7 linked regions of the Homo sapiens genome follow. The protein of the gene in region 1 interacts with the protein of each later gene in a pairwise test. Each region holds a gene or a part of one and is shown in the gene's direction. Other genes may lie near its edges. The genes, in order: NUP58, STX19, DELE1, PKNOX1, AGR2, LGALS9C and PNKD.

Region 1 (4,322 bases):
GAGTCTAGATAAATTATCAACTGTGTAGAATAGAGTTTAATTGGAATTATCAACATTTTCATTTTTATTTTGATTTCATGCATAGTAACAGGATTTTTTTAAGTAAACCATTTAAATTACACCATTTTTGAAATGGTAGTGCACTTTAGACCTTTTGCTTTAGTAGATTTAAAACTGTAACCCAAATCTTTAAATTTTGTTCTAAAGGAGGAATTTTATCAGATTTAAAAAAATTCTATTAGTCTATAATAAATGTTACTTTAATTTTTTAATAAAATTAATGTATGGCACTTTGAAGTCCGTTGCACAGAATTCTTTTCCTTAATTTTTATTATGAAATCTTTCAAATATACACAAAAGTAGGCTATCATTATACTGAATGCCCAGGTATGACTACCTAATTGCAACCATTATCAAAACCCTGCTGAACTTGTTTTATCAATGCTCCACAGAAGATGCTTTTTTTCCCCCCACGAAGTATTTCAGAGCAAATGCCAGGTGTAAACGTACATTTTTTTTAGCAGCACTGTCTCCTCTCTGGTTTGGAAAATATATCATTTTTGGTAATATGACCATAAAACAGTGAGACCAAGACCACATAAAACTGCCCTAGATCACGTCAAATAAACGTTGTAGACATGAAATTTTGACCTACTCTTTAAGCAACCCAGGAACGAAAGGATATTCCCAAGAACCAAAGAATATTTTATAATCAGATTTGGTATGTTGCCATTATTTTTAGCTTAGTTTAGTGAGCAAACTAAGCTCTAGGTTTCTTTATTTCTTGTAGAAATCTCACAAGACATTTTTTTGTTCGTTTTGTTTTTCATTAGGTAATCTGTTGAAACAGGCGTTAACTATTCTATCCAGCCAGGCCTCAGGAACATTAACACATTTGGAAGTTTTAGCAATTTGTTTTATAAATCATGGCTGATGTCAAGGTTTTTGTTTGTTTGTTTTATTATTTTGTTTTGTTTTGTTGAGAAGGGCTTGCTCTGTTGCCTATGCTAGAGTGCAGTGGCGTAATCATGACTCATTGCAGCCTCAATCTCCTGGGCCCAAGCGATCCTCCCGCCTCAGGCTCAGCCTCTTGAGTAGCTAGGACTACAGGCATGCACCACCACACCTAGCTAATTTTTTAACTTTTTGTAGAGAGGGGCACTTGCTGTGTTGTCCAGGCTGATCTTAACTCCTGGCCTCAAGGAGTCCTCCTGCCTAGACCTCCCTAAGGGCTGGGATTATAGGTGGGAGCCACCGCGGCCAGGCTGTTTCTTTTAACTAATGGTCTTGGTCTTAAGTTTCTAAGGTGGATCATTATTTTCCATTATCTGAAGTAGAACTAAAATTTATGGGATACTGATGCTTGCCCAGGACAAGGAAGGGTGGATTTGCAAGAGATCGGTAGTGCTTGTTTTTCTTACATCATATGTCTTGATTCTGGCTTTGTATCTTCCCCAGTATCCAGTTCTTGGCAGGCCCCCTTTTTTAATACATCATAAATGTAGCAAAGTTTGGAATTGGAACATCAAACACTGACATCCACACAAAAAGGGCGATGATAGCTTTTAAATACTATAAACAACAGTAAGATTTTTAAGTGCTGTATTTGTTATAATCAGAACCTAATGTTTACTAATTTCTGCTAAGAAATGTAAGAAATATGAAAAATCTGTGTCTCTTCAAAAAGTGGTTAAAAACCTATCTAAATTAGGCTAAATCTTCAATGAAAGCATAAAATAATTCTAAAGTGAAACAGAATTGTTGCTGTTGATGGCCTTAATCAAAGCAGATGCTGCATTGGGTAAAAGCAGCTCACTTTATGAACTTGGGAATTTTTCTTACTCTGGAGTTACAAACACTTTTTTTCTTTGAGGCGGGTGGTTGGGTTCATAACTTTAACATGAATCAAGTCTCATTGTACAATGGTCAAATAATAGCAATAAAGTAGAAGCCCTCATCATACCCTCCAACCACTGCTGAGGTGCAACACCTTATTTTAGCATGTGTTACCCAGGCCTTCTAAAAAATGTATTTAAAAGTATGTATATTTAGTGCTGACTTTTTTTTCTTTCTTTTTTTTTTAAACTGTTTTAATCAAAAGGCTATGAAAAGGTTGGACATTTGAGGGGAAAGTTTCTTGAAAAACTGGAATATTTATTTTTAAATTCTTTTCATCCATCCATCTGCACATTGATGGAGTATTTAAATATTACTCTGTCTAAAAGCTTAGCTGATTTATTTTAAACAAGGCCTCACAAAGACAGTATTTTAGGAAGCATATTGTAAAGATAGGGAGTAAACTATTCAAGGGAGCAGTAGAACTCTTGAACTCATCATTTCCTACACCAAAGTGCATTATTAGCACTCTAATTTGCAGTTTGGATTGAATGTATAATATTGGGACTGTCTTTGGTAATTTATGGTTATATTCATCCACATATTAACCATAGTCAATGTGAAACTTCATTTAGCCGTTTTGTTTATTATTCTTTTAGGTTCTGAAAGAACAGTACCTTGGCTACAGGAAAATGTTCTTGGGAGATGCTGTTGATGTGTTTGAAACAAGGCGAGCAGAAGCCAAGAAGTGGCAGAACACACCCAGAGTTACTACTGGACCCACTCCTTTCAGCACCATGCCAAACGCAGCAGCCGTTGCCATGGCTGCAACACTTACACAGCAGCAACAGCCTGCTACAGGTCTGAACGCATTCAAGTTATAGCTTCTTACTGTTCCAATGCAGAACATTTATGTGCGTTTTTATAAGTCTTCCATTTGTGTGAGCACTGAAGAAATTTCTATGAGTAGCTGTTCCAATACAATCTAAAATTGTGATGGACACGATTATAAACATACCTGATAAAAAAGGCAGGGTAGTCTTAGCAATAATTATACATCAATTAGATATTGAATATTGTGAATCTACTTAATGTTATTTGCTGTAATGCTATAAATGCCCTTTAGAACATGGTGTTTCACTAGTGAATTACATTTAAGAATAACATTAGATTCTGAAATCATGACTGTACCATTTATTGTTTTAAAGTCAGAGATCATCCATCCATTCTTTGAATTTTTCATATATGATACTGATAGGTGGTGCATTCTCATTTTCCTCATACATAGTGATTACAAAGTACCCACATTCAGGATGAAGTATGCTTTTATTGACTGAAGGTATGTTGAAGATCAATAGGCTTGTTTGTATGTATGTTGACTGTAAACAGAATACAAGCCCTCTAAACCAAATTTTGAAGATGATACATGCTAGAATTGTACCTTTCCAAGGTGAACAGAACAGCAAGAGCAGGAAAAAGATGTTTTGAGATGTGGATTGCACATTAAGGAGCAACTGGGAAGTTGAACAGATGAAAATAATTGGTGACATGGAAAGCAGATTGTTTTATTTCTTGGTTTAGTTACACTTCTAATTAGAGAAACATTTTTTGTGGTCATTCTACAGTGTTTTATTTGGTCCTGTGTCTTTCGGAGGTTAATAGTTATCTTAATCCTGCCATCCCTTTTGTCAGGTTTGAAGCTTGACATGGAAAAATAGTCTTAATCGATATTGATTTTTTTATTTTAATCATTCATAAATTTCTTAGTAATGCTTACTATTCAATAGCATGTGTCTTTCTGAGAGTTCCATATAGTCCAGTAGTACATTATAATACACACAAAAAAATTAATACATATTTAGATTGCATTCAAGCTACCTATACTAGGGAAGCATTCTCTGGTTTTCACTATTGGCAGTTTAAAAAATTGTTCTTCACATTTGGAGATGACAGAATTGACTTGCCATAAGTAAAGGGTTGATGATAGATTTATGCCAAATCCTCCATATCCCGTGGCTGGACCCATGTGAATAGTGGCTCGCACGAGCACTGTCTGGTAGCTCTCTAGCTGGCTGGAGTGTAGGATTGCATTGTTAAGTTATGGAGGGAAAAAGTCATTATGGGATTGATTCCTTTGAGGATTGATATTTCTTCTTAAAAGGATTCAATCCCATAATTATGACCATCAGCTCTCATGATTACCTAACCAGTTAATCAAACCAACCATAGTACTAGTTTACTTTTTAGAGCCAGTATTAATCCTAAAGTAGATAAGTGTAGATTTGGTTAAGTGTTCTTTAAACATAGTGAATTTCCATTCTATTAAATAGAACTTGAGAAATGTCAGTTATATAAAAAGTTATGTTGTAAGTGAATATATTCTATGATAAATACCTAAACTTGAAGCAAAATCTCCTGTCAAGGGTTTGTGTGTGTGTGTGTGTTTAACTTTCTTATCTATAGATTATTATTTTGAGAAATTCATA
Region 2 (3,188 bases), on another chromosome or scaffold:
AAATTAACAAAAATAACAGGGACTTGAACCAGGGAGATGGTAAGAGGTGGCTAGATCCAAATACATTTTGAAAGAGATGTTGACAAGATTTGCTGTGCTTGCATATGAAATGTAGAAAAAAAAAGTCAAGAATGACTTCCAGCCAGGCGCGGTGGCTCACAGCTGTAATCCCAGCACTTTGGGAGGCCGAAGAGGGCGGATCGCCTGAGATCAGGAGTTTGCGACCAGCCTGGCCAACATGGTGAAACCCTGTCGTTAATAAAAATACAAAAATTAGCTGGGCGTGGTGGCACATGCCTGTAGTCCCAGCCACTCGGGAGGCTGAGGCAGGAGAATTGCTTGAACCCGGACGGCGGAGGTTGCAGTGAGCCGAGACCACACCACTGCACTCCGGCCTAGGGGACAGAGTGAGACTCGGTCTCAAAAAACAAACAAAAAAAGACTTCTGAGTCTCTGGTCTGAGCAACTGGAAAAATAGAGTTGCCAGAAGAGAGATGGGGCAGTTTACGGGTTCACAGGAAGATTATGAGCTCATTTTGGATAGAGGCATTCAAATGCAGCTGTCAGGTAGGCAGTTTTTTAAGAGCAACCTAAACTGGAGATACAAATTTGGGTCATCAGCTTACAAACAGCATTTAATGCCATGAGACTAAAAAATGATGATGGATAAAAATGAGACTCAGTCTAAAATCTTCCAATATTTACAGGTGGGGGAGATAAGGAGTAGCCAGGAAAAAGAAAATAGTGATAAAGGAAGAGCCAAAAAGGTAAGAGAAAAAAAACAGGAGAAATACTTTTCTTCAAAGTGTCTCAAGAAATGATTGTGTTAAGTGCTGATGGGTTAAAATCATCAAGTCCTATTGCTTCTAGTTTCAAAAATATATCCTGATGGTTCCCATTTACTCCATCTCTATCATTAAAGTCTCTTCTGTGAACTACTCCCACCCCCTCCCCAGGAAACTATTCTCTATATAGAAAGCAACAACATCTTTTAAAAATATAAATCAGGGCCAGGCATGGTGGCTTATGCCTGTAATCTTAGCACTCTGGGAGGACAAGGCGAACAGATGGCTTGAGCCCAGGAGTTCAAGACCGGCCTGGACAACATAGGGACACCCCTGTATCAGTTTAAAATTTTTTTAAATTACATATCAAAATGAAAAAATATATACAAATCATGTCAATATCCTATTTATCTTTTAACTGTCTTCTACTGCACCTAGAATAAAATCTAAACTCCTTCCTTTGGCCCACAAGTCCTTTATGATGTGGTCCATGCCTACCTTTCTACTTCATTCTTCCCATGTTACTCCTCTCATTCCTTTCTATCTACATTCACTTTGTTCTTATGCAATAACTCTGTTCCTAAAACATATCAGTCTCATTCACTGCCTTGGCAACCCAACTCCTAGACCTACAATACACTCCCTCGGCTCTTCATCTGCCTGGCTTCTCAACATTCAGTCTCACATCTCAAATATCTGCTTAGAGACCCTGCCTGATTATTGTATCAAAACCTAAAATTATCCCGTTTATCTTTTAAATTGTATATTGTCCTTCTCACCCTAAATTATAAATTCCTCAAGGACAGAAAATGTTAAATATATATTACAGCATTTAAAACTTATATACATATAAGACTTCAATGACTATTTCACAAAATACCAGTCCTTTAAAACCAAAGGAATATTACCAGGACATTGGTTTAACCTTTTACCCAAAACAGGCATCATTTCTGTAACATGCCTGCCTGGAGTCATCATTCCAGAACATCTTGAAAATGTCCAGTGATGGCAAACTCAGCACCTCATGAAGCAGCTCATTTCATCTTGGGAAAGCAATATTTGTTTGAAAAGTCTTCTTTATATTGAATCAAACCTCTTTCCATGTAATTTCCACCCACTGCCCTTTGGAGTTATGCCAAGTAAGTCTAATCTCACTTGCATACACAGACCTTTGTTTAGAAGACAGCTGTATACACACCCTACATCTTCTCTTTTACAGGACAAATATTACCATTTATTTCAATGAGTCTCCATTTGGTATGGTTTTCCAATCTCATCCTTTCCATGCTAGTCTGGTAATTCCTAACTTAAGAACTTCCATCTCAAAATATGCTCAGAAGTTTATTGAGTTCCCCTTACCCTTGCAATTTGCTCTGAATAGCATAGAGTTGGCAGAGTTTAGTCTATCCATACATCAGACTATTATTTATAAAAGCATAGTGACTATTCTGATGGTTCTGACAGAAAGCTTAATTAGGCTGGGAGCGGTGGCTCACACCTGTAATCCCAGCACTTTGGGAGGCCAAGGTGGGCGGATCACGAGGTCAGGAGTTTGAGACCAGCCTGGCCAATATGGTGAAACCCTGTCTCTACCAAAAATACAAAAATTAGCCGGGCATGGTGGCAGGCACCTGTAATCCCAGCTACTCAGGAGGCTGAGGCAGGAGAATCACTTAAACCCGGGAGGCAGAAGTTGCAGTGAGCTGAGGTCGCACCACTGCATGCCAGCCGGGGCATCAGAGCAAGACTCCATCTCCAAAAAAAAAAAAAAGAAAGCTTAATTAATTAAAATCTCCAATACTTTCATAGACACTATTGTGAACCCAAGGGTCTTCTACTCTGTAGATACGAAAATATTTTTCTTATAGCTAGATGAAATATTTTAAATCTATTCCTGTTAAATATATTTTTGTTATTTTTAGTATAAAGTTCCACACTATTTTAATATTTGAATCCCTACCCTGTACTTCAACATACTAAAGATTCCTCCAAATTTTACACCATCTACACATTTGTTAAGTATGCCTCCTATGACAACATCCAGATTAATAGAAATATTTCCATAAACATATCAAACACTGAGTCCTACAGCATAACAGCATCACATTCAGAGACCTTTTTTTTCTGGTTGATATTAATATTATATGTGGTCCAATGAGCTATCTGTACTCCCTAACAGCCTCTTCTTATCTTCAAAAATGTCTTGAAAGACATTTCTAAAATCAAGTTGCTCTGTGATAATAGCATTTTACTGCTTTTTATTCCCTTCATTTTATATGTATGTATGTCATTTCATATATATCTATATCATTAAATATAAATTATGTACATCAATTTGATTCTTACAGATAACTACCAACACAGCATGTGATAAGTGTCAATATCATTATTACTCCTAAAATA
Region 3 (4,322 bases), on another chromosome or scaffold:
TTCCTGTAGCCTTCGTTGTGCATGCTTTCAGCCAGCCTATGCAAGAGAAGCCTCCACACTGCCCTGGCTGGAATCTCCCTGGGTGGAGGGATCCCCCTCTCCTTTGTGTTGGGTGAGCTCTGAGCCTCTGGCATTTCGTAGTTGAGATCCCTTGCTATGGGGCGGGCCAGGACTGGGCCTTGACCGTGTGTGGATGAAGTCCCAGCATGCCTGACTTCATCTTCCTCCTCCCTTAGCATGTCAGTTCCTCATTCCTGCATGTGTGTATCTGTTTGTCTGTCCATTTTCTCCTTAGGACTCACAGAGCAGGTACCACCTTGGAATTTGCTATGAGAAAGGCCTTGGTGTGCAGAGGAATCTGGGAGAGGCCTTGAGATGTTACCAGCAGTCAGCCGCTCTGGGAAATGAGGCCGCCCAGGAGAGGCTGCGAGCCCTCTTTTCCATGGGGGCTGCAGGTACAGACCCAAGTCCAAGCCAACAGGTTCATTCCCTGAGCTCAGTACTCTGTGACAGATAAGTAGGTAGCAGTAGTCTCTGGTCTCCTAGTCATTTCCAACCCCAGTGGTGGCTAAGAATGCAGCTTTTGGGATGGGCACGGTGGCTCACGCCTGTAATCCCAGCACTTTGGGAGGCCGAGACTGGCAGATCACCAGGTCAGGAGATCGAGACCCTCCTGGCTAACACGGTGAAACCCCGTCTCTATTAAAAATATAAAAAAAAATTAGTTGGGCGTGGTGCGGACCCTGTGGTCCCAGCTACTCGGGAGGCTGAGGCAGGAGAATGGCGTGAACCCGGGAGGCAGAGCTTGCAGTGAGCCGAGATCGCGCCATTGCACTCCAGCCTGGGTGACAGAGCAAGATTCTGTTTCAAAAAAAAAAAAAAAAAAAAGAATGCAGCTTTTGGAGTCAAGACAAACCTGAGTTTTTTTTGTTTTTTTTTGAGATGATGTTTCACTCTCGTTGCCCAGGCTGGAGTGCAATAGCGCGATCTCGGCTCACTGCAACCTCTGCCTCCCGGGTTCAAGCGATTCTCCTGCCTCAGCCTCTCAAGTAGCTGGGATTACAGGCACCCACCACGATCCCTGGCTAATTTTTTGTATTTTTAGTAGAGTCTGGGTTTCACCATGTTGGCCAGGCTGGTTTTGAACTCCTGACCTCAGGCGATCCACCCGCCTCGGCCTCCCAAAGTGCTGGGATTACAAGTGTGAGCCACCGCGCCCAGTCAAACCTGAGTTTTAACCCCCACTATCACTGAACTTGGACTCCATGGCTTAGTGCCTCAGTTTCTTCACCTCTGAAAATGAAGGTAATGGTAGCACCTAACTCATTAAGTTGTCATAAGGATGAAATGAGATGACACTAAGGGACTTAGCACAGCCTGACAGCACAGTAGGTATTGAACAAATGGTAGCTGCTCTGATGATTTTGTAGGAGAGACAATATCCCAAGGTTGCCTGAATTACCCTTCTAGGGCTCTAAGAGCCCTGCTCACTCATGAGTCACTGGGGTTGGGAGTTAACAATGCCTGGGGAACCAAGCCCTTGAAGAAGTGCTGGCTCCAAAGTAGGAGTCCAAGAATATACAGCAAGAGTAAGAGTTGCTCTCACCTCTTCTTGTAGCCCCGGGGCCCAGCGACCTGACAGTTACAGGACTGAAGTCTTTCTCCAGCCCCTCCCTCTGCAGCTTGAACACCCTGCTAGCAGGAACCTCACGCCTACCACATGCCTCGAGCACAGGCAACCTTGGCCTCCTCTGCAGAAGTGGGCATCTCGGAGCCAGCCTGGAAGCCTCCAGCAGGGCTATTCCCCCACACCCCTACCCACTGGAAAGGAGTGTTGTAAGACTAGGTTTTGGCTAAGGTGAGATAAAACATAGTCCCTGGTGCCTCTTAGGGGCCAGAGCGGGCAGGAGGTTGGATAACAAAAATAGAGCATCAGCAACCCTTTCCAGGTAGAAATTCCAGCGGGAGTTCAGGTTCCCAAGCAATTTCACGTACATGGCTGGTAAGTGACTGATCTTTCCCCCCGCTTGGTAGCCTCACAGATGAGTCTTGGATGCATTCACAGTCATTTCTGGTCTGTGCACCAAAGGATGCATTCAGTGACCTATGAAAAACCCTACTGAAGGGTCCAGAGACCCTGGTGCTCACCTTAGCCTTTGTCTTTGAGCAAATAACTTACCTTCTTCCTTCTTATGCCTGGGTTTTCTCACACTTAAATCTGTACTACTGTTTGCCAATGTCTGATGTGTGTATCCCTGGTTCACAAGAAGATTTTAGATGGTATTCAAATTAATATTTTCTATTTAGTTATATATTTAATGTATAATATAAAAATATGATTAGCATATTGACCTGTAGTTTGATAGATGTTCTGTCTAGGATAAAGCTAACTGTAAAAAAAAATAGTGAATCAGTTTAAAGAAAAACATAACGTAAAAGTGGGCACAGATCCAGAGAGGTAGCAAAAATCACAGGGGTGGTTCCATGAATGGCTGACACTTAGGAAACTCTGAATTAGGCCATCCTCGAGACTAGCCCACCATTCACCTCTGTTCATCCCCCGTGGGCTCATAATCGTTTTCATTTCACCTTTGATTTGGAAGGAAGAAGTTTCTTGCCCAAATGCCTGGATGTGTCTGCTTGACTTTCAGAACTTCTCACCTCAGCCCTAAAGAGGGAGCCTGTGGGTTCTCAGAGAGATATCACAATTTGAGTCCCAAAGAAGAGGCCAGATACCCACCCACCTTCCCCCAAATCTTAAGCACCTGCGCCAGTACAGTCAAGAAGAGGAAAGTGTGTGAAGACCCAGGTCTGGCTCTGCCACTTGCCTGGCCATGTCACCTTGAAGCTGTGACCTGACTCCCTATATTGTTTCCTCAGTTGTAGACCAAAGGCAATGGTGTCTGCCCTCCTACCTTAGAAGACAAATGCAAGGGCATTTCACCACAGAGAGGACCTTTGTGCTCACTTTGGCCCAGGAGGCAGTGATGCTCATGGTTGCATGACTTTATGAGTCGCTGGGCCAGGGTGAGGACCTGGGCCTCCTGACTCCTGGCCCAGAGTTCTTGTCCATCAGTTCATACTGCAATTTTATGTGAAAGCATTATGACTGTCCTACCCATGGGAGAGTAAATGTAGATTGAATGCTAGGAGTCTTAAAGCTGGAGAGTATAGATTTTGAGGTCCCCATTTGGGAAACATGTGCCAGAAATGTCTAGGTGTTTAATAAAACAGATATTGGATTATCTCATCACTCTTGCCCTTGAGTATTATGGGAAGAGCCAGGGAGACGGGCAGGGGGAGCTGAAAGCTGAGGCTCCGTCCTCATCTCTAAACTCTCCACTAACCAATTTAAAGGATCTTAAAAGCTTCTCCAGGAGAGAGACTTAGGAAAAAAAAAGATTTCTGAGTCAGTGCTAATGAGTCCAGTTACTGAATTTGTGAATAGCTATTCCCTGGCTTCTGGATGTTAGCCCAAGTTGAATAGCATAGATGTGGTTGAGAGTGGGGTCTGGGAGGGATAGAGAGCCCACCGCCCACCCCCCACAATCCCATGACTGAGTGGAGACCAACCAGCCTGGCCAATTCAAAGGCAAGAAGATTTGAGGGGGGAAAGTTGTCCACGTTTCCCTCTCTGCTTCCCACCCCATCTCTCTCAACTTCTTAGTGGTCCTGCCATACTTTCCTAGCACCTCTCTTTCACCCGGGGAGCCCAAGCGTCCTCTAGCTCCATCTCCTCGCCTGCTCCCTGCCTCCTTTTCAGGGCTGCCCTGCACACTGGCTCACCACTGTTGGACCCTGCACATGGCCACCTTCCACAGATGGCACTCCTTGGGAGCAGGGTCCTTGTCTTTGTATTCCAGTGTCCCCAGCACTGAGTGCAAGGCCCCATGCAGGGTAGGAAACCTGAGGTTTCAAGCTCAGGGTTTTAAGCTGTGCAGTGCACTAAGCTCTCTGCCAAAAAACAAACAAAAAAAGGTTTCTGTGGTTAAATAAGTTTGGGAAATGCTGCACCAGACGTCCCCTTTTTATAGATTCACAATACACATCAGCATATTTGAGGTTCCAAGAAGTCCTCCAGTAAAGAACTTGGTTAACCCAATGTTTTCTCTCACTGAATTGAGCCCAGAGCCCGTTTCCCTACAGATTGCTTTTGAGCCTTCCTGGGGCACCCTCTGCGTGAAATGTCACCGTGTGCCCTCCCTGTGGAGCCCCACTCCCCAGCCTCCTCCCCTCTGTGGTCATTTTGGATTTTCTGACTACTTCCTTCTAGCCATAGCTGGGGCCGAGGGCTGGTTCACAGTCTGGCCACTGGGCGTCCT
Region 4 (4,322 bases), on another chromosome or scaffold:
CAGGGCTTATTGTCTGCCTTTGTAATTGAAGGAGTGCTACATTTCAGCTAGAAGTTTTTGCCTTTTATCATTCATGTTCACAAATACCAAGTTGATTTACTCTCAGCCTATCCATTTGTAGGAATATATGGTGTCCTTTCTTTACTTCCTCAAATGATTATATTGATGACAAAAGAGACAAGGAAATAAAAACGGCACAGATAGGGGAACCCAAAGCCTAACAGTGTGTGTCCTTGGAGGTGAGGGTGAAGGAAGTGGCTGCAGGCCCTGGGAAGTACCATCTTGCATCCGTGTGCAGCACTGAGTGGATACCTCATGGTTCTGTCTTGTGTACACTGTTCAGGAGGACATGTAGAGTGGACATATCACATAGAAGAAGGTCAGTCTGGAAACTGTTAGGAGAAGCACTCAAGGGCTGAGAGGCATGGTCCTTGGTGGAAAGAGCCAGCAGGCCTGGTGCTGGCGGTGCCCTGCTCGTGACAGTGTGCAAAGTCTGGAGCCTGGCCTGTTCCCGCCCTTGGCAGATGGTAGCTCCTTGTTTTGGATTATTAGCCCCTGCCGGTTTAGTTACTGTTTCTGGAAGATTCACATAGAAGGCAGTGTGGTAATTCAGTCAACGTGTTGTCTGGCATGTGGTATAAAACTCCTGTTTAAAGCTCTGATTCTGAGGCCATGCCTCAGGGACTTGAGAAGGGGACAGAGCAGCTTATTTTATTTTATTATTTATTTTATTTAATTTTAATTTTATTTTATTTTGAGATAGGGTCTCACTTTTTCACCCAGGCTGGAGTGCAGTGGCACGATCTCGGCCCACTGCAGCCGGGAGCTTCTGGGCTCAAGTAATCTTCCCGCCACAGCCCCCAAAGTAGCTGGGATTACAGGCACGTGTCATCACACCCAGCTAATTGTACTGTTTGCCGTCTGCGATTGACGCTGGAATGATTGGCTGTTTTAGTCGGGTTCTCAGGGTGGCAGGGAGCAGGCTGACTTCAAGTTGGGTGGGTGGTGAGATAGGTGGTTCAGGATCATGCAGGGATAAAGAAAACAGGAGTCTATGGGATTCTTGGGACCACTGTATTGTTGCTGGGCCTCTGGGCAGATGGAACCATGGTTTGTGCTCTGGCAGGATCCAGTTCTGCACCAGGGCTCTTGGCCTTCCGCTTCAATTAGGTGGTTGCCCTCCACTGTCTGTTCCATCTGTACGCTCCCCTCACAGTGGGGGCTCACCCAGCCTTACCTGCCCTGTACTCTCCCTTTTCCAGCACCCACCTCAGAGAGAGTGCCTGTGCTCTTTCCCCTCACACCACCTACCAGGCGCTGACCTTCGGGCTGGGGGCTGGCCTTGGGTGTTGCAGGGCTACCTGGCCCAGGGAGTGGTGCTTGGGGAGGAATGAGCTTCTGACACCTGCACAAGGAAGGCCCCCTTTGAGCAGGGCCTGCCAGTGGGGTTGGGTCACTCAAAGGGGCTGTGGATTGGTAGGTACTATGATCACAGTTTCCAGAACATAATGCCTGAGTGAGCGCATGTGTTTTGTTACATGTTCTCTCAGACATTTTATGAAGGTTTGTACATTTTTTTGCATTAAAAATGTTAGGAATTTAACTTGACAAGAAAAAGGAGCATAAGGCCGGGTGCAGTGGTTCACGCCTGTAATCCCAGCACTTTGGGAGGCCAAGGTGGGTGGATCACCTGAGGTCGGGAATTCGAGTCCAGCCTGAACAACATGGAGAAACCCTGTCTCTACTAAAAATACAAAAAATTAGCCGGGTGTGGTGGTGCATGCCTGTAATCCCAGCTACTTGGGAGGCTGAGGCAGGAGAATCACTTGAACCCAGGAGGTGGAGGTTATGGTGAGCTGAGATCGCGCCATTGCACTCCAGCCTGGGCAACAAGAGCGAAACTCCATCTCAAAAAAAAAAAAAAAAGTTTAATAAACATTAAATTGCTAAACTTTACGTTCTTCTAAATTTAGTTACGTATTTGAGCATACTTTTTTTTCCCCCACGAAACAGGGGCTTGCTCTGTTGCCCAGGCTGGAGTGCAGTGGTGCAATCTTGGCTCCCTGCAACCTCTGCCTCCCGGGTTCAGGCAATTCTCCTGCCTCAGCCTACTGAGTAGCTGGGATTACAGGTGCCCACCACCACGCCTGGCTAATTTTTGTATTTTTAGTAGAGATGGAGTTTTACCATGTTGGCCAGGCTGGTCTCGAACTCCTGACCTCAGATGAGCTGCCCACTGTTGCCTTTCAAAGTTCCAGGATTACAGGCATGAACCACTGTGGCTGGCCTTTTTTTTCCAATTTTTTGTTATGGTAAAATACACGTAACAAAATTTACCATCTTAACCATTTTCAGTGTGCAGTTCAGTGGTGGTAAGTTCATTCATACTTTTGTACAGCCATCACCACCATCTGTCTCCAGAACCCTTCATCTTGTAAAACTGAAACTCTATACCCATTAAACACTGCCTCCCCATCTCCCCTCCCTGAAGCCCCTGGCAACCACCATTCTACTTCCTGTCTCTGAATTTCGCTACTATAGGGACTTCATACCAGTGGAATTAGGTAGTATTTGTCTTTTTGTGACCAGCTTAGCTCATTTACCATAATGTCCTTAAGGTTCATCTATGTTGTAGTGTGTGTCAGAATTTCCTTCCTTTTTAAGGCTGAATACTCCATTGTGTGGATATACTGAATTTTGTTTATCCATCCCTCAACAGACACTTGAGTTCCTTCTACCTTTTGACTATTTTGAATAATAAAACTGTGAACCTGAGTGTGTAAATACTTCTCCGAGATCCTACTTTCAATTTTTTTGGATATAGATCTAGAAGTGGGATTGCTGGATCATACTGGAATTCTGTTTTTAATTTTTTAGGGAACCTCCATCCGATTTTTCGCAGCAACTGTACTGTTTTATATTCCTTTTAATTTAATTTATTTTTTATTTTTCCAAGGACTCAATAAGGAGAGAGTATCAGTTTACATTCCTACCAACAGTACAGAGGTTCCAGTTTCTCCGTATCTTACCCAACACTTATTTTCTTATGTGTTGTTGCTTTTTTTAATAGCAGCCATCCTAATGGATTTGAGGTGGCATCTTACTGTCATTTTGATTTGTATTTCCCTAATAATTAGTGATGTGGAGCATCTTTTCACATGTTCATCGGCCATTTACATGTCTTTGGAGAAATATCTCTTCAAGTCCTTTGCCCCTTTTTGAATTGGGTTTCTTACATGCATACGTGTGTGCGTGTGTGTGCGTGTGTGTGTGTGTGTGTGTGTGTGTTTTAAAGAGACAGGGTCTCATGATGTTGTCCAGGCTGGTCTCCAACTCCTGGGCTCAAGTAATCCAGTAATACTCCTGCCTCAGCCTCCCAAGGAGCTGGGACTTAAAGACATGGGCCCCTGTGCCTGGCTATGTTCATACGTTTTTACATATTTTTTAAGCTATATTGTGTTATGCTTTTAGTTGGCATTTTAGTGATTTTTAAAACATTTATATAATCCACACATTTCTCGTTTTAAAAATTTAAGGTCTCATACACTTTTGTGAGTCCAGTTTTTTTCTTTTTCTTTTTTTTTGAGACAGAGTTTTGCTCTTGTTGCTCAGGCTGGAGTGCGATGGCATGATCTTGGCTCACCACAACCTCCACCTCCTGGGTTCAAGCAATTCTCCTGCCTCAGCCTCCCAAGTAGCTGGGATTACAGGCATGTGCCACCCCGCCTGGCTAATTTTGTATTTTCAGTAGAGACAGGGTCTCTCCATGTTGTTCAGGCTGGTCTCGAACTCCCGACCTTAGGTGATCTGTCTGCCTTGGCCTCCCAAAGTGCTGGGATTATAGGCGTGAGCCACCATGCCCGGCCAGTTCCAGTTTTTTGTATTATTTTACGGCCATGCTCTATGTTGTGGAGCCTTTTGAGTATTTAGGTTTTGATACTTTCTGTGTTTTGCCATCCGAAAGCTGGAGTCCCTCTGACCCACCAAGCTTAGTGCTGACAGGGAGAGTAGAGAGGGGTGGCTGCTGTGCAGGGAGGGAGTGCAGGTGCCAGTTCCACAGTGCTGTGTGCCCAGTGTAGGCAGTGCCTGAGAGAGGCTGTCCATGGGAAAGGGGTCCTTGCCTCCAAGGGTTAGGGTTCCTCATTTTCTTTTCTTTTTTTTTTTTTTTTTTTTTTTTTTTGAGATGGAGTCTCACTCGCTCTGTTGCCCAGGCTGGACTGCAATGGCACGATCTCGGCTCACTGCAACCTCTGTCTCCCGGGTTCGAGCGATTCTCCTGCCTCAGCCTCCCGAGTAGCTGGGACTACAGGCATGCGCCACCA
Region 5 (4,511 bases), on another chromosome or scaffold:
AGCCCTGCATTTGCTACTAACTGCCAGGGGCTGGGTAGTAGAGTGGATGGATCAGAGCTCCTGTGAGTGCAGACACACTCCATTCCCTCACAGGACATGAATACATGAACTTCAGCTCCCCGGGGCAATAAATACAGGTTGTTTGAAAACAAACCATTCCATTCCCTTTTGCTTCATTTATCTTTGCAGACCCATCTCTGACAGTTAGAGCCGATATCACTGGAAGATATTCAAATCGTCTCTATGCTTACGAACCTGCAGATACAGCTCTGTGTAAGTGTGACCTTCAATTCGGATGTTGCCCAAGAGTTGAACACCTCTATTGCTGTAGTGATGGGACTAGAGGCTGCATGGTGAGGTGAGAGAGAGCTAGGCTTAGGGACGCCTCGGACTCAGTTTGACCCTAACTAGCCTTGCATCTTCAGGCAAATCACACTCTTTCCATCTCAGGTTTGTTTGTTTTTAATCTCAATTGAAGATGAATTATTTAGATTAGGTATCTTTTTCTCTAGGAGGATTCTATGACCACATTACCTGATTTTCAGGTTTTCTGTTAGGTACACGAGCACACACTCCTTCTATCACAGAACTGAGTGTAATAATTGTAATAATCTGCATGTCTTAATTTTTTAAATAACAAAAGTGAAAGAATGTGCAGTCCAGCTTAAAATTAAATTCAGGTTCAGTTTAAAGATCAGTTTCAAAGATGATCCAAATGATTGCCAAGAAAATTACCTTCCCTATGGTTGCCATCAATGGAAGAGAGACAGAGAGAGAGAGAGACACTGACTTAAGGCAGATGAGGTACCTCAATGCAACGCTGTAGCTAGCTGTGACATCTGATTAGTCCTCTGGGAAGAAAAGTGGGTTTTATCCTAGGAACCAACTCTGATCAATTAGTAGTGGCTGCCTAGAACTGCACTGTCCAATATGTTAACCATTTGCCACATGTTGCTACTTAAGTTAAAGTTAGAAATTCATTCCTTCAGTCACACTAGCCATATTCCAAGTGCTCAATGCCCGGACACTGAACATTTCCATCATCACAGAAATTTCTATTGGCCAGTGCTGACTTAGAACGTCATGTTGGGAAGAGAAGTGAGGCCGTGTCTAGGAAGCAGGAGAGATCATCATGGTCCATTAGCAATGTTTCCAGTGTGTGCTGGACCAGGGGAAGCACATTCCAAGTACTGTCAGCCATTACTGAGATAATACCATACATTTTAATAAGACTAAGCTCTTAAAAGGCACGTGTCCTACACAAGTAATATCACAATCCCTTGTAGAACAGGCACTTAATAATTAAGATTTGTAGGAAGAGTGAATAAGCGGCTGTTCAATGCCTATCGAGTGGACATCTTATTTTTAGTAGATCACATACCTCATTTTGATGAATTGCTGTTGAAGAAACAGTGACCCAGAGTTTGGGCTCTGGAACAGTAGCTCCATTACTTGTTAGCTGTGTGACCTTGAGCAAGCTACTCAGCCTCTCTCTGCCTGTTTCATTATGTATATATAAAGTTCTAATCGTGTTTGTATGAGGATTAAAGAATTCATCTGCATAAAGCACTTGGTTTGCTATTATTTATATTTCCCCTACTTCTAAAACAATTTACACACACCTACTAATAGACATTTCTTTTAAACATGATTTAAATTTACTTCTAAATGAGCCAAAATTATCTTCTGCTGCTAGAGCTTATAAAAGGATTCTTTTGGAAGTGAGGGTTGGAGATGAAGGATCTGGGAAGGAATGACTACACTAGAAAACTAGATTGTCACAAAAGCCATTTCATATAATTTTTTTAAATTACAATAAGATTACCAACTATTCACCTCATGATAAAAAGCATCCTATCAGGCTGGGCACAGTGGCTCACGCCTGTAATCCCAGCACTTTGGGAGGCCGAGGTGTGTGGATCACTTGAGCTCAGGAGTTCGAGACCAGCCTGGCCAGCATACCAAAACCCCATCTCTCCCAAAAATACAAAAATTAGCTGGGCATGGTGGAGCACACCTCTAATCCCAGCTACTCAGGAGGCTAAGGCTGAAGAATCACTTGAACCCAGGAGGCAGAGGTTGCACTGAGTGGAGATTGCACCACTGCATGCCAGCCTGAGTGGGAGTGAGACCTTGTCTCAAAAAAAAAAGCATCCCATTAAATAATGAATTGAGCATCCAAGTTTGGGGTTTATTATATCGATATAACGCACGATGGTGTCTTGACTCTCCTGCTTTTATCCCCCATTAGTGCTTGACAACATGAAGAAAGCTCTCAAGTTGCTGAAGACTGAATTGTAAAGAAAAAAAATCTCCAAGCCCTTCTGTCTGTCAGGCCTTGAGACTTGAAACCAGAAGAAGTGTGAGAAGACTGGCTAGTGTGGAAGCATAGTGAACACACTGATTAGGTTATGGTTTAATGTTACAACAACTATTTTTTAAGAAAAACAAGTTTTAGAAATTTGGTTTCAAGTGTACATGTGTGAAAACAATATTGTATACTACCATAGTGAGCCATGATTTTCTAAAAAAAAAAATAAATGTTTTGGGGGTGTTCTGTTTTCTCCAACTTGGTCTTTCACAGTGGTTCGTTTACCAAATAGGATTAAACACACACAAAATGCTCAAGGAAGGGACAAGACAAAACCAAAACTAGTTCAAATGATGAAGACCAAAGACCAAGTTATCATCTCACCACACCACAGGTTCTCACTAGATGACTGTAAGTAGACACGAGCTTAATCAACAGAAGTATCAAGCCATGTGCTTTAGCATAAAAGAATATTTAGAAAAACATCCCAAGAAAATCACATCACTACCTAGAGTCAACTCTGGCCAGGAACTCTAAGGTACACACTTTCATTTAGTAATTAAATTTTAGTCAGATTTTGCCCAACCTAATGCTCTCAGGGAAAGCCTCTGGCAAGTAGCTTTCTCCTTCAGAGGTCTAATTTAGTAGAAAGGTCATCCAAAGAACATCTGCACTCCTGAACACACCCTGAAGAAATCCTGGGAATTGACCTTGTAATCGATTTGTCTGTCAAGGTCCTAAAGTACTGGAGTGAAATAAATTCAGCCAACATGTGACTAATTGGAAGAAGAGCAAAGGGTGGTGACGTGTTGATGAGGCAGATGGAGATCAGAGGTTACTAGGGTTTAGGAAACGTGAAAGGCTGTGGCATCAGGGTAGGGGAGCATTCTGCCTAACAGAAATTAGAATTGTGTGTTAATGTCTTCACTCTATACTTAATCTCACATTCATTAATATATGGAATTCCTCTACTGCCCAGCCCCTCCTGATTTCTTTGGCCCCTGGACTATGGTGCTGTATATAATGCTTTGCAGTATCTGTTGCTTGTCTTGATTAACTTTTTTGGATAAAACCTTTTTTGAACAGATCTTTTGGCATTATTAATTTTTCCAGGGATATATTTTCAATCTTTTCTATCTCTCCTAGTGACTACTATCATTAGTAGGTGTTGAGCATATACTGCTGATTTAATGACATACAAATCTTCAGCAAAAATATCACAGGTTAATCAGCTCCCTTCTCACAAGTAGATAACTTACATGTGCTGAAAAAGGTAAAACATTCCATTTAAAAAGATCTCTGAGGGATAACAAGAGGAAAAAGAGGTTTCCCTTCCATAAACAAATATTTTAAATGACAAGTTCTAAGTGATTCAAGTTTCTCCTATAGTATAGCAAAATATTTTTTCATTGGGCGGACGTGAAATAAGGTTAACTTCTTAAAATGTATTGAATGGCAAAATATCTTAACACATACAAATACTTTTTAAATATAAATAAATATTTAGGAAATCAAATGTTACAGCTGTAAGGAAAATAAGTCCCCCTTTTAAAAGCATTGAAGAAACACAAAGCATGAGTCATTAATTGACTTTGTCCCATCAGTCTCCTCCACCACTGAGAATTTATCCTAAGGAAATCATTCAACAGAAACAGTTCTGTCAAGATGCCAATGGTAACATTATTTAAACGTACCACAGAAAAGCAACCTCCCAAAAATATAATGGCCACATGGTATATTAAGACAAAATGCAGTTTTTTAATCCTGTCTAGGTGAGTAGTCATAAAAATTCTTCTCTCCCTCCCCCTCCCCCTCCCCCTCCCCCCCCCCCCCCTCTTTCCACGGTCTCCCTCTCCCTCTCCCTCTATTTCCACGGTCTCCCTCTCATGCCGAGCCGAAGCTGGACTGTGCTGCTGCCATCTCGGCTCACTGCAACCTCCCTGCCTGATTCTCCTGCCTCAGCCTGCCCAGTGCCTGCGATTGCAGGCGGGCGCCGCCAGGCCTGACGGGTTTTCGTATTTTTTTGGTGGAGATGGGGTTTCGCTGTGTTGGCCGGGCTGGTCTCCAGCTCCTAACCGCGAGTGATCCGCCAGCCTCGGCCTCCCGAGGTGCCGGGATTGCAGACGGAGTCTCGTTAACTCAGTGCTCAATGGTGCCCAGGCTGGAGTGCAGTGGTGTGATCTCGGCTACAACCTCCACC
Region 6 (4,322 bases), on another chromosome or scaffold:
GGAGCCCCAGGGAACATTCGCAGGGCAGCCAAACTTTGGCCCTGGCCCTGGCGCTGGCCCTGGCCCTAGGGATGACAGAAAGTGTGCTGGATACAGTCAGACAGAATTGGCTGCCATTTTGGATTTGATCCCTTCCACCCGGGCAAGCTTGGGCAAGTTGCTTAATCTTTCTGAGCCTCATTGCCTCACCAGGGACACAGGAGCTGAGGCTGCTTCCCTCTTTGGAAAGCACTGAAGCCCAGGACTCGGCCCACAATAGGCCTTCAACAAATACCACTTCTCAGCTTACGGGTGAAATATGGCACCGGAAGTAATGCTCTTGGCTGTGGGAGCTACAGACAGCAATGAGGTCTCTATCAAACCCAGCCTCCTCTCTCTCGAGAGGAACCAGTGGGGATACCCTACCCCTCAACCCCAAAGCCTTGTGCACCTGAGGGTAAAAATCTGGGTGCCACGGGCTCAGGAAGGCTTGCTTGGGAGCAAGAGGGAGGTGGGTGTGTCTGGGGAGGCATTTCTGAGCACAAGAGCCTCCCTGGAGTTCTGCCATCGTCTCTCCCCGTTCTGTGGTGCCCGCAATAACCACCGTTCTGACTCTCCTCACCCCTCCAGCCTCCCAGCGTGCGGCCTGCCAACCCAGCTCCCATTGTAAGTCTCTTGCTTTCTTTTTGGATCCTCTTGATTTTGGCTCTTCTTCTGGGCTAATGGAGGATGCAGGGCCAGGCATTGGGCCTCTCCCATCGGGAGTGGGGAGGGCAGAGGCCAGGCCCTTGACCATCTACCCGGCCTGGCGAGGTTGGTGGGTGAATGTGGTTGGCTGGCCGTGATGGAACAACCTGAGTTGCCACTCCATGGGCAGCCACGGAAGACCATGCCCCACGTTCACTTCTCTCACCTGCAAAGGGAGGCTAGGCTGAGAGACGTTTCCCCGAGAGGAAAGATGGGCCAGAGCCACCAGCGTCCCCATCTGTCTTCTCCAGGGTCCTAACCTTTGCCTCTCCCTCGTCCCCTGGACCCACCCTCCGTGGGGTCTGTGGGGCCACTGGGCTGGTTATGCCCCTGGAGGGTGCCTGCCGTGTGGCACCCTCTGGTGGGAGCTGGGGTGGTCTTTACTCAGGAGAGCCTGGGTGAGACCTGGTTTCTTTCTTCCAGACCCAGACAGTCATCCACACGGTGCAGAGTGCCTCTGGACAGATGTTCTCTGTAAGTCTTCAAGTTCTGATCAGTTCACAGCTGCACAGTGCCCTCCTTCCCCAAGAACTAAACTCCCTAGAGCCCTAGAGTTGGGAAGAAAGCGGTTTAGCAAGGAGGGTGGGGACATCTGGGGCTGAGTCCTTGGCTCAGGTGACATGTGGTTAAAACTATCCTTGGGACAGCAGAGATTCTGGATTTATCCAGTGGTGGAAGAGGCAGGTTCCCTAGAGACTGGGAGGGAAACTGGTCCTTCTGTCACCAAGTGGGGAGTGCAGTGGCCCCAGCACCCGGATGTGAGGTTCCTGGCCCTGCCTCCTGGGTCCCCGGGATGTCACTACAGATCACAGGCTTAAGCTCTTCTCCTGCTGGTGCAAATCAGGCCGGGAACTTAGCATTAGTGGGGCTGCCTGCGGAGGGGCTGAGGGGCAGGTGACCATGGTGGGGTCTGGGAACACGGCAGGAAGTTCCAGGAAGGCTAACATGAAAACGGAGGTTTACGGGAGAGTCCAAGGGCCAAAGGCTCATGAGGTCAGCCTCACAGTGGAGCCCCCTCTAGAATGCGTGGGTGCGCGTGGGTGAGTGCTCGCGCACACATGCGCTCTCCCATTGAATTTCCTGGTTTCTTTTCAGCAGACTCCCGCCATCCCACCTATGATGTACCCCCACCCTGCCTATGTAAGTGGTTTCTCAGGGAGGGCAGAGGTTCTGTTTGTGGTGGGCAGGCTAGGGATGAAGGGCCGCTACGGGGGGATCCGCTGGCCTTGAAAAATGAAAAGCGAAGGGCTTTCAAAATGGTAAGCTGAAGGGCTTCAAAGCGTCCCAGTGAATTAGAAGACTGTGGAGAGGAGCTTTCAACCTTAAAACTGTCGTGTCAACGTGAGCACATTGCATGGCCCTCCCTTTTCACCCCACGAGTCTTTCTTTCTGTGTTTGGCCAAATTTCCTTTCATGACACTAATCTAAGCCCATTAATTTGAGGAGCACCGGAAAGTTTTCCTTTGGCTTTTATGGAACCAAGGAAAGATATCGTGGGCTTCTTCTCAGCTGACAGCCTAAATTCATGGGAACTGGTACAATCTTCCCCTTCCATGTGGCGGCTGCCCTGACTGCCACTGGCTGACCTGTCCCCGTCCTTCTGACAGCCGATGCCTTTCATCACCACCATTCCGGGAGGGCTGTACCCATCCAAGTCCATCATCCTGTCAGGCACTGTCCTGCCCAGTGCTCAGAGGTAAGCCAAAGGCTCCAGTGACCTCTGGGAAGAGAGAGCCCTTCAAGGTCATTCCAGCCATTCCCCTGGCTTTTGGCAGGCTGGGGATGATGGGGAGGAAATGGGGCTCAGAACTCAGTGGACAAAGGTCCAGGTAGGCTGCCCACCCCAGGTTCCACATCAACCTGTGCTCTGGGAGCCACATCGCCTTCCACATGAACCCCCGTTTTGATGAGAATGCTGTGGTCCGTAACACCCAGATCAACAACTCTTGGGGGTCTGAGGAGCGAAGTCTGCCCCGAAAAATGCCCTTCGTCCGAGGCCAGAGCTTCTCGGTAAGGCGCCGCAGCCTGGAGCTTGAGGAGGCTCCTATGGGTACACGGGGAGGGGGTAAAGGAGGTCTGGGGTACCTTGAACAGGATGGGAGCTGATGCCTCTGGGATGAGGGCCCAGAAGAAAAGGTGGCCAAAAAATTATTGTCATTATTATTAATAATTATTACTGTCCTGCATGAAGGAAGCGTTGGGATCTGCTTTTTTAGATGAGGAAAGAAACTCACAAGTGCAGGTTACTTGCTTGCGGTCACACAGTCAGTAAGTGTCAAATCAGACCCAAGAAGGAGGTGTTATTCATTTCTTCACTGACTCATTCAACGATTTCACTGTCGCCCGCTTTGTGCAGGAAGCACTCCACATGCTGGGAGCGCAGTCATGAAGCAGACACGTAGGGTCCTTCCTCCAGAGAGTTTACAATTTAGCTGGGGGAAGGAACAAGGAAACTAAAGCATGAACAGATTGTTGCAGATAACAACAGTGCCACGCAGAAAGCAAAACAGAGCGATGAGATAGAGCGAGCCTGGGAGGGGCAGCTAGGGCCAACATGCAGAGGTGTGGGTGTGGCCTCTCCAGGAACAGCAGCAGGCGTGCTCCGCCCTGACTACACATTCAAATCACCCAGAGAGCTTACAAAGAACATATAGGTGCTGGGACCCCAGCCCAGGCCAATGAGGCGGTCAGCCTGGGCATTTGTATTTTTAAAATATGCCTGAAGTGATTACACTCTGCAATCAGAGTTGAAAATGACTGATGTAGGGCTTTGCAGCCATGGAGCCAGGGAGCAACATTCTTTGATTTGTGGACAGCTGTGTGACCTCGGGCAAGTGACTTAGCTACTCTGTGCTTCAGTTTCCTCATCTACAAAATGGAGCTAATAATCATATGAATCTCCTAGAGCTGTAAGAATGGAATGAGGCAGTATCTGTAGCACGCTTAGGACAGTGCCTTACACATGGCATGTGTGTTAGGAGTGTCAGCTATTGCAAAGGGCAGGAGGTTTTAACATTTGTACCCTGACTGCCTCATGGAGAAGGCATTGGGGTGGAAAAGACAAGTTAGGAGGCTGATGCTGCAGGAGCCCAGGCCCAGAGCACTCCTGTGTGCTGGGTCCGAGGGATACAGATGGCACAGGCCAGTGCTCCTGTCCCTGATGTCGTGGGAACAGTATTCTACGCCAGGGAACAGTACAGGGGAAGGAGCACGCACAGCCTGTTTAGTGAAGAGCCGGTCGCTCAGTGGGGATAGAGTGCAGGTGAGGGGCTTATTAACAACTGAGGAGGGAGGGAGGGAGGGAGAGAGGAGGCTGCAGTGAGGGTGGAGGACTTCCCAAGTGTAGTGCAAACGGCATAATCTCTGCACAGGTGTGGATCTTGTGTGAAGCTCACTGCCTCAAGGTGGCCGTGGATGGTCAGCACGTGTTTGAATACTACCATCGCCTGAGGAACCTGCCCACCATCAACAAACTGGAAGTGGGTGGCGACATCCAGCTGACCCACGTGCAGACATAGGCGGCTCCCTGGCCCTGGGGCCGGGGGCTGGGGTGTGGGGCAGTCTGGGTCCTCTCATCATCCCCACTTCCCAGGCCC
Region 7 (4,322 bases), on another chromosome or scaffold:
ATCCGCCCACCTCGGCCTCCCAAAGTTCTGGGATTACAGGTGTGAGCCACTGCGCCTGGCCTCTCCAATTTTCTTCTGTGAGTTCCTCAGTTCATGTCTCCCTGATAGATTTTGAGTTCTAGGTGTGTCCGTCTCATTCTCCATCTTGTCCTGAGTGCTAAGCAGGGCAAACAGTAGGCACATAATAAGTGAGAGTGGAATTGCATTGGCTCACAGGGTCACCAAAGGAATGGAGATGTGGGGCCTGCAGGCATCACGAAGGAGTCTAGGGGAGCTAGGGAGAAAAGGCTAATCATAGGCCACCCACTCGCCCTCTAGGTACAGCCTGTACACCCGCACCTGGCTCGGGTACCTCTTCTACCGACAGCAGCTGCGCAGGGCTCGGAATCGCTACCCTAAAGGCCACTCGAAAACCCAGCCCCGCCTCTTCAATGGTGAGCTCTGACTGCCCCGGCCAGCATCCCCCATTCTGTGCCCCCACCCTCCCCGCCTGCTCCCCTTCACATACCCCAGCCCCTGGGCTCCCTGCCTGTTACCCCGCCCACAGCCCATCTCTGTCCCCAGGAGTGAAGGTGCTTCCCATCCCTGTCCTCTCGGACAACTACAGCTACCTCATCATCGACACCCAGGCCCAGCTGGCTGTGGCTGTGGACCCTTCAGACCCTCGGGCTGTGCAGGTGAGGGGAGGGCAGGGAGCAGGGGGTGCCTGGAGTCACCTTGGGGACTGGCAGTTTCGCCTTGCTAGAGAGGGCTGACCCTTGTCCGTCTGCCCGTGGGATGTGTCCCATATGCTCCATGTTCACACGTGCACATGCGCACACATAGCCTGGGGAAGGGGGGTACAGGGCATGGCTGGGCAGAAGGGGAGAGCAGGAGTGGGGGATGCAGAGCCAGAGGGCTGGGGGTGTTGGCCCAGGACTCTGGGTCTAGTGAGTTTCCAGGCTGGCTTTCACTCCCATTGGCCCCCTTCAGACCCCCTTTCTTTCTGTCACCTCTGTCTGTCAGTATCTGGGTCTCTCTGTCTTTCCCTCCCATTCCTTATCTCTCTGTGTCTGCCTCTCTCTATGTACAAGTGTCCCTCTGCCTCCATGTGCCCCGTGCTTCACATTCCTGGATCTCTCCCCTCCAGCTCCATCCCTTTCCTCTGCTTCATCTCTCCATGCTCTCCTCTCCTCTCCACCAGCGCCCACACTCCTGGCTCTTGCTGCTTCAAGTGCCTCTTGCATCCTGCTCCCCAGTCTCCAAACCTCCTCTCTCTCGCAGGCTTCCATTGAAAAGGAAGGGGTCACCTTGGTCGCCATTCTGTGTACTCACAAGCACTGGTAAGGGGCTCCCGTCTTCCCTGGCCCACCCTTGTCCCAGCTGGGCTTGCCAGGACTGGGCCCATTGAGGACGGCCGGGGCCAGAGATCAAGAAGTCAGTACGGGCCGGCACCCGCCTTCCTCGTGAAGTCACCTGGACACCAGCAGGGAGGGAGGAGAGGGGACAGTCTCCCACCACTCCATTGATCAAGCTTCTGAAGCCCCAGAGGGCAGGGCAGTCATTTCTCTTTCATTTCATGGGCATGTATTAGATACCTACTGCACACTGGGCATGGACAAAAGTTATGACTCTTCCATCAAGGAAATTCTAAGACCAATAGGGGAGGTAGCCCTGTATCAAAGTATATAACAGCGGAGGCAAGAGGGTTGGGAGTTCAAGCCCAACCTGGGCAACATAGTGAGACCTTGTCTTCAAAAAAGAAGTATGTGATATTTAGGTAACAGTTGGCACAGGGAACAGGGATGGGAGGCCCAGGCACGGTGTGATCAGATCCACTTGGAGAATTGAAAGATGATGACCTGAGCTGAGGGTTCAGGAAGCTCGGCTGGCATTGGCCAGCTTGAGTTGTTGGGGGCGATGTTCTGGGCAAGGGAACAGCTTGAACAAAGGCCTAGAGGTGTGGACAACTTGGCTTAGTCCAGAAGCCACAGCCCCAGCACTTAAAGGCCTGGAGATGCTGTGGTAAAGAAGGGGGCTTAGGTACAGTTGCCCCTCGAAGCCCCCTGCCTGTCTCTGCTGTCCTGCAGGGACCACAGTGGAGGGAACCGTGACCTCAGCCGGCGGCACCGGGACTGTCGGGTGTACGGGAGCCCTCAGGACGGCATCCCCTACCTCACCCAGTAAGTCCCTGACCTAGGCAAGGGATGGCCCTTCCATGGGCCCTTTCCCCCACCCCCAGCCTTCAGTGAAGTGTTTCAGGGGTATCAGCAGGTGGATCTTTGCCAGTGCCCTTCCTGGCCCAATCCCAGCCTATCTGAAGACTGGCACTGCCCATCCCCCAACTGATCCAGCCATAGTCCCCAAAAGAGGAAAGGGGGAGGGTTCGGACCTGAGACCCGAGGCACTGGGGTGACTTCTTTTGTATGGAAGCCCACTCTCTTGTGAATCACCCAGCCCCTTGGGCCTGGGATGGGGACAGGGATCAGCATGGCACAGATCCAATACCTTCTGTCCCCTGCTCCCTTGTTCCCCAGTCCCCTGTGTCATCAAGATGTGGTCAGCGTGGGACGGCTTCAGATCCGGGCCCTGGCTACACCTGGCCACACACAAGGCCATCTGGTCTACCTACTGGATGGGGAGCCCTACAAGGGTCCCTCCTGCCTCTTCTCAGGGGACCTGCTCTTCCTCTCTGGCTGTGGTGAGTTTCCCCGAAAGAGAGAGGAGCTGGGAGAGGAGGGAGAGACAGAAGCCAGGGCAGCCACAGTCCCATGGAGAGCACTGAAGCCTTAGTTTTAGCACAGATGTTGCCGTGGCAGTTACTTCCATCTGTGTTACTCAGATTGGTTTTAATCCTTGAGACTTCCCTTGGGGCACCTTGGGAGGCTGAGGCAGGAGGATCACTTGAGGCTAGGAGTTGGAGACCAGACTGGGCAAAATAGCAAGACTGTCTCTACAAAAAAATTTTAAAATAGGCCAGGCGTGGTGGCTCATGCCTGTAATCCCAGCACTTTGGGAGGCTGAGGTGGGAGGATCACCTGAGGTCAGGAGTTCAAGACCAGCCTGGTCAACATGGTGAAACCCCGTCTCTACTAAAAATACAGAAATTAGCCGGGCATGGTGGTGCATGCCTGTAATCCCAGCTACTAGGGAGGCTGAGACAGGAGAACTGCTTGAACCCGAGAGGTAGAGGTTGCAGCGAGCTGAGATCGCGCCACTGCACTCCAACCTGGAAGACAGAGTGAGACTCTGTCACAAAACAGAAAAAAAAATTTAAATAATATAAATAATATAGGCCAGGAGCAGTGACTCAGGCCTGTAATCCCAGAACTCTGGGAGGCCAAAGCAAGTGGATTGCTTGAGCCCAGGAGTTCAAGACCAGCTTGGGCAACATGGTGAAACCCCGTCTCTACAAAAAATACAAAAATTAGCCAGTGTGGTGGTGAGCCCAGGAATTCAAGGTTGCAGTGAGCTATGATTGTGCCACTGCACTGCAGCCTGGGCAACAATGAGACTCTGTCTCAAAAATAAAAAAGACTTCTGCCAGCTGCGGGACAGAATGGGAGAATGTCTGTAGCTGAGTAAAGCCCTGCAGGGAATTAGTTTCCCCTGGGTGGAGACTGGTTCTCTGATACAGTGACTGGCAGGACTAGGTTATGAAAAGTTAAGAACAGCTAGGTGAGTGGGTGGGTGAGGATCACAAGTCCCAGGCTGCATGAAATCCCAAAGGGCAGCCTAGGCGAAGAAGTGTTCCGTGGGAAAGAGCAGCCCTGCGTCTACCAAGCCTGGGGCCTGCAGCCCGAAGATTCCACAGCCCCTCCCTTCAGGTGTCACTGTGTGCAACGGAGGCCTCGGATGGGCTTGGTCAGGGGGTGACCAGTTGGGCCCAGTTCCCAGTGAGGAGGGAATAGATGCCTGGGGTGGGTCTGGAAAGTGCACAGTCAGGGCTGACGGCCAGCCAGAGCATTACAAGCTGGTTCCCACCTGTCTGGGTGTGCCTTATGCCATATTGTGTTATCCTGGCACCTTGTGACATACCCTCCAACCCCCACCCAGGGCGGACCTTTGAGGGCAATGCAGAGACCATGCTGAGCTCACTGGACACTGTGCTGGGGCTAGGGGATGACACCCTTCTGTGGCCTGGTGAGACACCCCCTTACTACTCCCCATCCTCCAGCCCCACGCTCAGCCTGGGACAAGGGCCTTCCCACCCCCTCACTCCCCTAGAAAGCAGGCCAGCCCAGTTCCTGGCCCAGAAGCGACACAGCTCCACCTCTAGGGGTAGGGACAGAGTTCTGGCCTCCCTTCTTCCTGGAGTGCTGGCTCCGTACCACCTCTGCTTC

What was found.
Region 2: the proteins of NUP58 (region 1) and STX19 interact in binary tests that used the Homo sapiens proteins (3 or more experiments, as listed by UniProt).
Region 3: the proteins of NUP58 (region 1) and DELE1 interact in binary tests that used the Homo sapiens proteins (3 or more experiments, as listed by UniProt).
Region 4: the proteins of NUP58 (region 1) and PKNOX1 interact in binary tests that used the Homo sapiens proteins (3 or more experiments, as listed by UniProt).
Region 5: the proteins of NUP58 (region 1) and AGR2 interact in binary tests that used the Homo sapiens proteins (3 or more experiments, as listed by UniProt).
Region 6: the proteins of NUP58 (region 1) and LGALS9C interact in binary tests that used the Homo sapiens proteins (3 or more experiments, as listed by UniProt).
Region 7: the proteins of NUP58 (region 1) and PNKD interact in binary tests that used the Homo sapiens proteins (3 or more experiments, as listed by UniProt).

What each region holds. Positions count from the first base shown.
Region 1 is NC_000013.11:25,328,862-25,333,183, forward strand, and holds part of NUP58 (nucleoporin p58/p45), read left to right. Parts: intron 1-2,495; coding exon 2,496-2,697; intron 2,698-4,322. UniProt on the Homo sapiens protein: Component of the nuclear pore complex, a complex required for the trafficking across the nuclear membrane.
Region 2 is NC_000003.12:94,016,018-94,019,205, reverse strand, and holds part of STX19 (syntaxin-19), read left to right. Parts: intron 1-707; exon of another isoform or gene 708-767; intron 768-3,188. UniProt on the Homo sapiens protein: Plays a role in endosomal trafficking of the epidermal growth factor receptor (EGFR).
Region 3 is NC_000005.10:141,936,903-141,941,224, forward strand, and holds part of DELE1 (death ligand signal enhancer precursor), read left to right. Parts: exon of another isoform or gene 1-112; intron 113-295; coding exon 296-455; intron 456-1,618; coding exon 1,619-1,857; 3' UTR 1,858-2,603; coding exon of another isoform or gene 2,604-2,672; 3' UTR 2,673-4,322.
Region 4 is NC_000021.9:42,980,822-42,985,143, forward strand, and holds part of PKNOX1 (homeobox protein PKNOX1), read left to right. Parts: intron 1-4,322. UniProt on the Homo sapiens protein: Activates transcription in the presence of PBX1A and HOXA1.
Region 5 is NC_000007.14:16,790,698-16,795,208, reverse strand, and holds the end of AGR2 (anterior gradient protein 2 homolog precursor), read left to right. Parts: intron 1-189; coding exon 190-273; intron 274-2,251; coding exon 2,252-2,301; 3' UTR 2,302-3,398; downstream 3,399-4,511. UniProt on the Homo sapiens protein: Required for MUC2 post-transcriptional synthesis and secretion. May play a role in the production of mucus by intestinal cells. Proto-oncogene that may play a role in cell migration, cell differentiation and cell growth. Promotes cell adhesion.
Region 6 is NC_000017.11:18,490,124-18,494,445, forward strand, and holds part of LGALS9C (galectin-9C), read left to right. Parts: intron 1-609; coding exon 610-645; intron 646-1,149; coding exon 1,150-1,200; intron 1,201-1,821; coding exon 1,822-1,866; intron 1,867-2,333; coding exon 2,334-2,422; intron 2,423-2,573; coding exon 2,574-2,736; intron 2,737-4,097; coding exon 4,098-4,244; 3' UTR 4,245-4,322. UniProt on the Homo sapiens protein: Binds galactosides.
Region 7 is NC_000002.12:218,339,465-218,343,786, forward strand, and holds part of PNKD (probable thioesterase PNKD isoform 1 precursor), read left to right. Parts: intron 1-318; coding exon 319-434; intron 435-564; coding exon 565-677; intron 678-1,263; coding exon 1,264-1,322; intron 1,323-2,069; coding exon 2,070-2,162; intron 2,163-2,446; exon of another isoform or gene 2,447-2,516; coding exon 2,517-2,680; intron 2,681-4,035; coding exon 4,036-4,122; intron 4,123-4,322. UniProt on the Homo sapiens protein: Probable thioesterase that may play a role in cellular detoxification processes; it likely acts on a yet-unknown alpha-hydroxythioester substrate.